Regions from separate parts of the Homo sapiens genome. Here region 1 is linked to region 2. The links come from fine-mapping of genetic effects on gene expression. A gene starts in region 2. The other region holds a variant in brackets. All regions are shown on one strand. Distances are between the middles of the regions.

Evidence for each region.
Region 1: its variant is fine-mapped to the expression of ATRAID in transverse colon (CEDAR, PIP 0.90).

What each region holds. Positions count from the first base shown.
Region 1 is chr2:27,173,961-27,179,337 of GRCh38, reverse strand. No RefSeq gene overlaps it. Among named protein-coding and RNA genes, the nearest start is that of TCF23, 28 kb to the right of the region's middle. The variant A/GTA (reference allele first, on the strand shown) is at 2,560.
Region 2 is chr2:27,209,461-27,214,837 of GRCh38, reverse strand. ATRAID (all-trans retinoic acid induced differentiation factor) reads right to left here and starts at 2,797. Exons shown (of 7, transcript NM_001170795.4): 1 at 2,371-2,797; 2 at 1,540-1,661. The coding sequence starts at 2,469. It overlaps SLC5A6 (solute carrier family 5 member 6), which reads left to right and starts at 2,570. Exons shown (of 17, transcript NM_021095.4): 1 at 2,570-2,818; 2 at 3,305-3,371. RefSeq lists silencers at 2,374-2,623, 2,814-3,133 and enhancers at 3,916-4,713, 4,668-4,727.

The DNA of each region.
Region 1 (5,377 bases), 36 kb after region 2:
GGTTTTACACCATGACTAAGTGGGATTTATCCCAGGATTGCAACTGTGGTTCAGCATATGCAAATCAATTAATGTGCTATGCCACATTAATGAAATGAAGGGGTGAAACCATATGATCATCTTAATAGATGCAGATAAAGCATTTTACAAAATCCAACACCCTTTCATGATAAAAACACTCAACAAACTAAGAATAGAAGGGACATTCCTCAACCTGATGAAAGGCACTTATGAAAAACTCACAGTTAATACTATTATAATTAATGATGAAAGACTGAAGTTTTCTCCCTAAGATCAGGAATAAAACAAAGATGCCTATTGCTGTCACTTTTATTCAACCTTGTACTGGCAGTTCTAGCCAGAACAATTAGGCAAGAAAAATATATATAGAAGTCATCCAAATTGGAAAGGAAGAAGTAAAACCACCTGCATTTGCATACAACATGATTTTGTATATAGAAAATCCCAAAGAATACACCAAAAATACTATTAGAACTAAGAAACAGGCCGGGCAGGTAGCTCACACCTGTAATCCCAGAACTTTGAGAGGTGGAGATGGGTGGATAACTTGAGATCAAGAGTTTGAGACCAGCCTGGGCAACAAGCAAGACTCCATTTCTACAAAAAAAAATTTGAAAATCAGCTGGGCATAGTGGCGCACACCTGTAATCCCAGCTACTCTGGAGGCTGAGATGGGAGGATTGCTTGAGCCCAGGAGGTGGAGGCTGCAGTGAGCTGAGATCACACTATTGCATTCCAACCTGGGTGACAGAGGGATACCCTGTCTCAAAAAACAAAAAAAGAAGAAAAAAATTAGTAATACAGTTACTTATATAGCATATTTTTGTCTTAAAATTACGTCAGGAAGTTTTTATTTCTATATTATTCCAATAAAAACAGATGCATGAGAAGAAGCACCCCCTTTTCTCCTGTTCTCCTTTGCTGGATCAAGTCATATCTTCACATATTGTCTGGAATTGCTACAGCTATTTTGAAACCCAAAGTGAAAGCATCATCAACCTGCTGAGGATAGCAAGGCAGAAAGACAAATTCATCGGTGGACCTGGATCTGTGATGACTTCATCAAGGCTCTGAGCCAATCGTGGACCACCTGGCCTCCAGACATCATCTTATGTGAAATGATGGCTGTCCTTATTGTGTAAGCTATTTGGTTTGAGTATGTTCTGCCTAGCAGCTAGAAGCGTCCAACTGATGCCAATGCTTCTGGTAAAAGTTGTGATTAAAGCAGATAACGGTGTTAGCTGACGTGCTGATAAAATCGGAATCAGTACATGGCCAAGTCATGGATCTGGTGGAAAGTATTCAAATAGATCAATGCATGCTTGGTGATGCTGGTGCCTGTCATCATAAACATCCATCCAGGCCATCATGATCACCTCCGAATGGTACAGGACTAAAGTCCAATTCAGGATCTACACACCCTGCTTATAATAATGCCCTAACTTCCTTTGAAGATGAAACGCATTTCTCTGTGTTCTTTGAACTATTGTACAGAAAAACTTCCCCAGGAAACTCTTTGAACTCATATTTGTTTGTTTCTCATTAAACAAAACAAAAAAAAAATTGGCCAGGTGCGGTTGTTCATGCCTGTAATCTCAGCACTTTGGGGAGCTGAGGCGGGCGGATTGCTGAGCCCAGGAGTTCAAGGCCAGCCTGGGCAACATGATGAAACACTGTTTCTACTAAAAAATACAAAAATTAGCCGCGTGTGGTGGCATGTGCCTGTAGTCCCAGGTACAGGAGGGAGGCTACAGGAGGCTGAGGTGAGAGGATCACTTGAGCCCAGGAGCCAGAGGTTGCAGTGAGCCGCGATCACACCACTGTACTCCAGCCTGTGCAACAGAGTGAGACTGTCTCATAAAGATAAAAAATTTAAAAACTGGCCAGGTGTGGTGGCTCATGTCTGTAATCCTACCACTTTGGAAGGCTGATGTGGGCAGATCGCCTGAGGTCAGGAGTTTGAGACCAGCCTGGCCAACATGGTGAACCCCTCTCTCTACTAAAAATACAAAAATTAGCCGGGCATGGTGGTGCATGCCTGTAGTCCCAGCTACTCAAGAGGCTGAGTCAGGAGAATCGCTTGAACCTGAGATGCAGAGGTTGCAGTGAGCCGAGATTGCATCACTGCACTCCAGCCTAGGTGACAGGACGAGACTCTGTCTCAAAAAAAAAAAAAAAAAAAATTAAAAAACTAAAAAAAATTATACATTTCATATAGTTTACAAGTCAAATAACCTAAAAAGGCATACACTTGAAAGATTCACTCTCTTGGTGGTGTGTGGCGCCTGTAGTCCCAGCTACTTGGGAGGGTGAGACAGAAGGACTGCTTGAGCCCAGGAGTTCAAGGCTGCAGTGAGCTGTGATAATGCCACTGCACTCTAGCCTGGGCAACATAGTAAGACCTCATCTCAAAAAAAAAAAAAAAAAAACAAGACTCACTTTCACCTTATCCCCCATCTGCTCCAGTTTCCACTAGAACAAGTAACTGCTTTTTATTGTTTTGTGTGTGTGTGTGTGTGTGTGTGTGTGTGTGTGTGT[A/GTA]TCTTATGCAAATAAAACAGAAATGATGTATGATCTGGTAGCATAAAATACACACTGCTTTGTACTTTTCGTCTTATCCATTTAAAATCTCTTTTCACATTACTGTCACAGCAAAATATGAGAAAGAACTGTTTCCCATAGAGCATGTTGTCAAACTTTGAGTTTTTATCCATATGATAGGTGAGATGGGTTTTTTTTGTTTTGTTTTGTTTTGTTTTGTTTTTAGAAGGAGTCTCACTCTGTCACCCAGGCTGGAGTTCGGTGGCATGATCGCAACTCACTGCAACCTCCACCTCCCAGGTTCAAGTGATTCTCCTGCCTCAGCCTCCCAAGTAGCTGGGGCTGCAGGTGCGCGCCACTGTGCCCAGCTAATTTTTGTATTTTTAGTAAAGACAGGGTTTCGTCGTGGTCGCCAGGCTGGTCTTGAACTCCTGACCTCAAGTGATCCACCCGTCTCAGCCTCCAAATGTGCTGAGAATTACAGGTGTGAGCCACTGTGCCTGGCTATGAGACAGTATTTCAGTGTAGCTTTAATCTACACTTCCCTTTATTATTAATGAGCTGGCCTCTCTCTTTGTGTTGCTAACTGGCCATTTGTATTCCCTTCCTGAGATCTGTCTGTTTATATTCTTTCTCCATTTTTCTATGGGGTTTTGGTCTTTTTCTTAATGATTTCTAGGAGCTCTTTAAATATTAGGGAGATTATCCCTATGTTTATGACCTGAGCTCAAATACTGTTGTCCAGTCTGACACTTGCCTTTTGATTATGCTGATAGTGATTTTTGCCTTGCTGATTTTCTTCACACTATTTTTAGGTTTAGAAGTAGAACAGGGAGGGCTGGGTGTGGTGGCTCATGCCTGTAGTCACAACACTTTTGGAGGCCAAGGCTGGTGGATCACCTGAGGTCGGGAGTTCGAGACCAGCCTGACCAACATGGAGAAACCCCATCTCTATTAAAAACACAAAATTAGCCAGGCGTGGTGGCACACGCCTGTAATCCCAGCTACTCGGGACGCTGAGGCAGGAGAATCCCTTGAACCCGGAAGGCGGACGTTTCAGTGAGCCGAGATCGCACCATTGCACTCCAGCCTGGGCAACAAGAGCGAAACTCCATCTCAAAACAAAGACAAACAAAAAAAAGAAGTAGAACGGGGAGAAGGAGCCAGGAAGAAGACTGAGTTGATTAGGAAACCTAGAGAAGTGTTTCAAGAAGGATGGAGCTGGGAGTAATGCCAGAGGCCAAAGTGGAAGGATTGCTTGAGGCCAGGAGTGAGCTGCCAGGCTGTACTGAGCTATGATCACACCACTGCACTCCAGCCTGGGCGACAGAGTAAGGTCCTGTCTCTCAAAAGAAAAAAAAAAAAAGGAAAGAAGAGAAAAGATGGAGTAGTGAAATCAAATGATGCCCAAAACACAAAAACATAGCGACACAAGACCACAGAAATCGACATCAGCTTTGGCAAAAGGGAGGCCACCAATAACCTTACCAGTGCTGTTGTAGGAGTGAGCTGGAGATGGGCTCTTGATTGGAGTGAGTGAGTGAGGAAAGACAATGGAGACAGCAATAATAGAGAGCACTTAAATTTTTTTGCTATGCAGCAGGCCAGGGAAATGTGGTGGTAGTTAAGGTGGGGAAGTGGGGTCAGGAGTTTTGTTTAATGGGAGATGCCATGCTAGAGAGTGTTTGCATGCTAATATACGTGAGAGAAATGATCCAGTGGAGGGCGAGAAGCTGAGGATGCAGAAGGCAGAGGGAATAATTTTAGGAGTGAGGCCCTTTGGAAGAGCAAGAGGGGGTGGGATTCTGGCCCCAGAAAAGAACAGGCCTCTGGTGGGAAGGGGCGCATCACCCATGGTGAGCCTGGACACGCCAGCTGGGAAATGGGTAGCTGTGGTAACAGCCACATTGCACCTTGGTGAAATCATAGCTCACTGCAGCCTGGCGCCACCATAGCTCACTGCAGCCTTGTGCGACCACAGCTCACTGCAGCCTGTCTGAAAACAGGGGATTACTGCCTGATTGCTCTTGTTTTTGTCATGAAGTACGTGGTGATGGCAAGCTGAGAGGTTCTGAGGAGAAAAAAGAAGGCGAGAAATAAATGTGTTAGAATGTAAGAAAGAAAACATATCAGGGAAGATTGCCACAGAGTGTTGAGTGCCTATTTGAGATTTTTGGTTGAGAATTTTGAGGCAGGCCAGTGAACACAATCGTGTATTCATTTCCAGCAGTGTTCAGATGAAGTGTAGAGTGGGAAGACCGTGCAGGGTCGGGATGTTGCAACGCAAAAACAGTGGGAGAGGAGGGGTAAGGGATAAGGATATTTGCAAAGGAGCAATTACAACAATGAACATAGAATCTGGGATGAATAAAGAGGAAGTAAGGACACGAGGGAAGATGGTTAGTAAGACAGAAGGAAGCAAATGAATTAAAGGTCTCAAGAAGACTGAAGAAATACTGGACTGCAGGCATGAGACTGAGATGGAAGGATAAGACATAGGGATCACAATATCCAATCAGAATGCTTAAAATAGAGATTCTGAGAATGGTGTATTATTGGTTTTGACAAGGTTAAGGGCATGACCATAGAAATGGGTGGCTGAAGAGAGAAAATAGAAAATTGCATTTGAGGAGGTCAGAATCTAAGATGCCAAGATGTTGGATAAATCATCCATTTGAGTGTTGAAACCAAAAAAATGATGACAAGAATAGGATAGAGAGAAAGACAGTCAGATGATAAAATCTTCAATGAAAGACAGGGAATGACTCAGAATTTAGTAGAAGTTGCCACCAACAAAGGATATTGGGGGACAAACCAG
Region 2 (5,377 bases):
CTCTGTTGCCCAAGCTGGAGTGCAGTGGCACGATCTCGGCTCACTGCAACCTCCATCTCCCGGGTTCAAGCAATTCTCCTGCCTCAGCCTCCTGAGTAGCTGAGATTATAGGCACATGCCACCACGCCTGGCTAATTTTTGTATTTTTAGTAGAGACGGGGTTTCACCATGTTGGTCAGGCTGGTCTTGAACTCCTGACCTCGTGATCCGCCCATCTGGGCCTCCCAAAGTGCTGGGATTACAGGCATGAGCCACCGCGCCTGGCTCGGAACATTTTCATAATCACAGAAAGTTCTATCCGCCAGCACTGTTCTAATCGGTTATGCATCTATTGGGAGAAATCTGTGTTTCTTGTCTACATTAGTGAATCTCATATTATGATTTTCAGATCCACAGAGGGCCTTTAAATTAAAAAAAAAAAGTCACATAAATCAAAGTTTTTTTCCACATGTATTTTCTACCACAGATTGGTTGTAAACTGCTGGACATTAAGGATCATGCCACGTTATTTTTTTCTTCAATATCTACTGCTATCCATTCCTTTATTCTACAAATATTTACTGAGTCCCTACAAACTGCAAACACTGGGAGAATGTTAAAAATATGTAACACAGTATTTTGGCCTTTGAGTGGCTTACAATGTAGTTAGAGGAACAAGAGCACTGCCCAAAAATAAAAGCACTGTAAACATTAAATTACAATATAAAAGAAACCACAGGACAGTGTATAAATATATTTGAGTGGACACTAAAGATTACAGGAAGTTTTTAAAAAAGGTATTACTGAATCGCTTGAACCCAGGAGGTGGAGGGCGCGGTGAGCCGAGATCATGCCATTGCATTCCAGCCTGGGCAACAAGAGTGAAACTCCGTCTCAAAAAAATAAATAAATAATAATTTAAAAAAGGTATTACTCTGGAACTTAGTAGTAGTAAATATTCACAAAAGATGTTGGAATTGAAGGATGGATATTTCCTAATTTGGTAGAGGAAGGCAATTTCAGGTATGGAGAGAGGCCTGAACAAAGGTGGAATGCCTTTGAGGGCAGGCAAATCTGGCTGGTGCAGACCATTATGGAGGTTTGAGCGGACAAGTAATTGGAAATAATGTTGGAAAAGTGGGTTGGGACTAGTATGGTACTTAATGGTTTGAATTTTGTCCTGAGACAAAATTTAATACTAAATATAGTATTAAAGCAAGAGAGTGATAATGGAAAATGTTGGTTTTCTAAAAGCTTAATACAGAGAAGTATTTAGGTAGATGAAGGAAAGAAGAGAATGGAAGCAAAACATAACATTTTGAGTTTGAAGTTAGGGTGCACTCAGTAGGAAATGCTTAATAGGAAGCTAGAGGTACCCGTATGTACCTGGAGTGTGGAAAGGTTAAAAAAGACACTAAAGAGATCTAGTTTTGGTAGACATCTGCGTGATGATTACAGCTGAAACCATAATAGGTGGATTCTTTAAATAATATAAGGGTATAAAAGCAGCCAGGCTAAGGAATGGCCTGTATCCAGCATCTAGGGATGTCTTCCCCTCACCCCAAGATGGTGCCCTTCTGATTCAGGCAGCAACGGGCATGCAGCATTAGCTCTCGTGTCGTTTTACAATAAAAGGCCACTTTTGACAAATTTTGCACGCTCCCTGGACATTGGGTGCATATCTGCAGAAGAGAAAGAAACATTAGAACTCCAGAAAGAAAAGCCAAGAAAAGAACAAACGGCGATCAAGAATTAACTGCCAGTACACGTTTCCAGAATTCCTCTAACACGGGGCCGATAAATGGATAAACGGCTCGTGTCCCACCCTTGTAACAGGCTAGGCTAGGAGATGCCATCTCTTCCTCCAGAGTCCTGCGCCGAATCAGCTCCCGACACTTTCAGTACCAGATATCGCACAGGGAAGGTCCTCATCTCTGAAGATCACTATTCGAACTTATTTATTATGCTTTCTGCAGAGACTTCTCAATCTGACAGCCCTAGTTTGGCGCGGTGTAAAACGACCGCAGGTACGTAAAGAACTCATCAAGCATTACAAAAGTACAGCCCTACCACCGCACGATATATGGCGTTCGTGCGTAGAGAGATTACACAAGAGGCAGAGGACCCGTCTGTAGAAAGAACTTAAAGTTATTCTAAAATTAAGGGGCGAAATCAAGTTTCACAGGTCTTTGAAAGTCGGCAGGACTGGGGCGCCGAAGGCCTGCACGACGTGAGTACTTGGGAACAGGACCTGGCTGGGCAGGGTCGGGAAGCGTCAGGGACGAAATCAGAACCGCAGGCCCGCCGAGGAGAAGGGGGAGCCGCTGGCGAGCGCGACGCACGGCTGGCCAGCGACCCTGCTTCAGCCCGACCTCAAACTTGCTTCTGTACCTCGGGTAGCGCCAGAGCCCTTTCCACGCCCAGAGCGAGGAGCAGGGCGGCAGCCCAGGGCACCAGGGTCGTAAGACTACCCGGGTCGTGAGGCGCCATTTTCCGTTCCCTTGGTGCTCCGCTGCTCGCGCGACCCGGCCCCGCGGCCCCGCCCCGCAGCGCGTCAGGCCCTCTTCCCCGGGCGTGGCCTAAGCGGCCCGGTCCAGTCGCCCTGGGGCTGCTTGGGGGCTTTTCCTGCTCGTGGAGCTCTGCGCTGGTCTTCATGCGCCCTAGCCCTCTTTCGGGGATACTGGCCGACCCCCTCTTCCTTTTCCCCTTTAGTGAAGGCCTCCCCCGTCGCCGCGCGGCTTCCCGGAGCCGACTGCAGACTCCCTCAGCCCGGTGTTCCCCGCGTCCGGACGCCGAGGTCGCGGCTTCGCAGAAACTCGGGCCCCTCCATCCGCCCTCAGTAAACATGGCGGCACGGCGAGCGGGGCGGGCAGGGGGCGGGCAGGGGGCGGGGCCCCCGCGGGCTCCCGGCCAGGGCTCTCGGCCGGGCTCTGGCTACCCACGTGTGGAGACCGGGCAGGTGGGCCTGGAGAGCGTGAGCCGGTGCCGAGAGGCACCGGGGAGCGGCGTCTGAGCCGGGGCGGGGACAAGGGGGCGGGGAGGGGCGGAGCGAGCCGGCCTCCGGCGTGGGTCTGAGATCTTAAGTGCGAGCGGTAAGGTGGTGGTCTCCGCCGCGTAGAGGGAAGCGGGAAACCGAGAAAGAACGAGGGTGAGGGTGATGAGGGAAGGGCAAACCTCAAACTCCAGCGGGAGGACACGAGCCTGGATCGCCCCGGGCACCTAGTCCTCTTCACCTCAATGCTGATAGCGCATAGCGTCCCGGAGCCTGGCGAGGAGGTAGGAGCGGGATAGACGCTTCCCTAACTCATTTTCTTTGCCTTCCCAGGAAAAGGGAGCGATGTTGATCTCAGGAAGCACAAAGGGACCTTCCTAGCTCTGACTGAACCACGGAGGTAAGGGAGTGCGTTGCTGCCCCAGGGTGGGCCAGCGCCCTGACTGAAGGGCGCCAGGGGATCCCTGCTCCCGGCGCGACAGTGTTGGTTAGGGCCAGCCAGAAAGCTCCTTAAAGCCGACCCAAGTGATCATCTCGAGTAGCCGAGCCAGGCTTCCCTTCCACATTACCCCCATGGTGTCTGCCTGGAAGTTCCTGAAAGGTTTACGTTTAGCTGGCTGGCAAATTTTCTAAGGTGTTAGTAGCTATTAGCATTTTAAGGAGGGCCCCCAAAGCCTTTCACACCTTGAGGAATTATAGGCCCCAGGACAGATTTTGAGGGAATCTTTTTGGAACAGTTAGTCCTGCAGTGGTCTCATTGCCTTTTGTAGGAGTCAATGCGATCCACTGCAGTGTGTGACCAAAGTGAGTTCAGGTTTTTATTTTTATTTTTATTTTTATTTTGAGACGGAGTCTCGCTCTGTCGCCCAGGCTGGAGTGCAGTGGCGCGATCTCGGCTCACTGCAAGCTCCGCCTCGCGGGTTCACGCCATTCTCCTGCCTCAACCTCCCGAGTAGCTGGGACTACAGGCGCCTGCCACCACGCCTGGCTAATTTTTTGTATTTTTTAGTAGAGACGGGGTTTCACCGTGTTAGCCAGGATGGTCTCGATCTCCTGACCTCGTGATCTGCCCGCCTCGGCCTCCCAAAGTGCTGGGATTACAGGCAGTGATGTGGGACCCCTTTTAAAAACCTGAACTTGGCCTGGCGCGGTGGCCAGGCCACCGATCCGCCAAGGCAGGTGGATCGTCATGTCAGGAGTTTTGAGACCAGCCTGGCCAATATGGTGAAATCTCGTCTCTACTAAAAATACAAAAAAAAAAAAAAAAAATTAGCTGGGCGCGGTAGCACATGCCTGTAGTCCCAGCTACTCAGGAGGCTGAGGCAGAAGAATCACTTGAACCCAGGAGGTGGAGGTTGCAGTGAGCCGAGATCGTGTCACTGCACTCCAGCCTGGGCGACAGAGCGAGACTCCGTCTCCAAAAAAAAAGGGGGGGGGGTCCCACAATCTGCTGTTTGTGCCTTGGCATGTTATAGTTGTAGTGAAACAACAGCTAGCTCTTGCTTTTGGCCGCCCTCTTTCTGGAGAGATGCGAGACCATAGCGTTTGGATCAATGTAGGGTGTTTAGAAAACTACAGATCTGTTCTCAGAATCTGGTCTGTTGCTAGGTCAGGTTTTTCCTGTCTTCCCTGGGGCTCTCTCAGGCCATCCAGGGGAATTCTCCATACATCATGCAAATAGAATTTTATCAGGAAGTCCCATCAGCAGAGTGTCTTTATTTCTGTACCTCCGTGTCCCATACTGGGACTTTCCTTCCTGTCTCTGGCCACCTACCTCTCTAAACCACTAACCCTATAGTTAGTTCTTTGTTCTGTGTTCTTTGCACACAGGAGACCTCTTCTTTCCTCTTACTCCCCAGTAGTTCCCATCATCTCTATCATAGCAGTAAAAACTTGCCAAAGACGAATGAGAAAACTCAGGGTGTTGCAATGTGCAAAGGCCCAGGGCATGTTTAGGTTAAACCAGAGTTTAAGCCTGTTGGGAATCTTGTAGAACATGTGATCCAAGAGTTGCCAGGTCTGATTTTCCCTCTTTATTGGCCCCAAGAGGTTCAGAGTTCAGGTTTAGTCTGCATGAGGCCATATCTTGCCAGCCAGCCAGTGTCTGCCCAAGAACACACTGTGGGAGAGCGGAAAGGCAGCCTAATCTTTCTCCTAGTGGGCAAAAGCAGAAGACATAGTTTATGTTAGTCTGTCTCTTGATTAGTTGAAATCTAAACTATGTCCTGTGAATGACTGACTGCAACACTCTGCTCCTGTCCTGGTTCTGGGAATAGTGAGGACAGGGCCCTTGCTGAACACCTGTCATAGCTGCAGACAGCACTGTTTCTCTCTCTCTTGTTTTGTATCATGCTGCATAACCTTGAGCAAGTTATTTAATCTCTCAGTTTTCTTGTGTTAACTGGA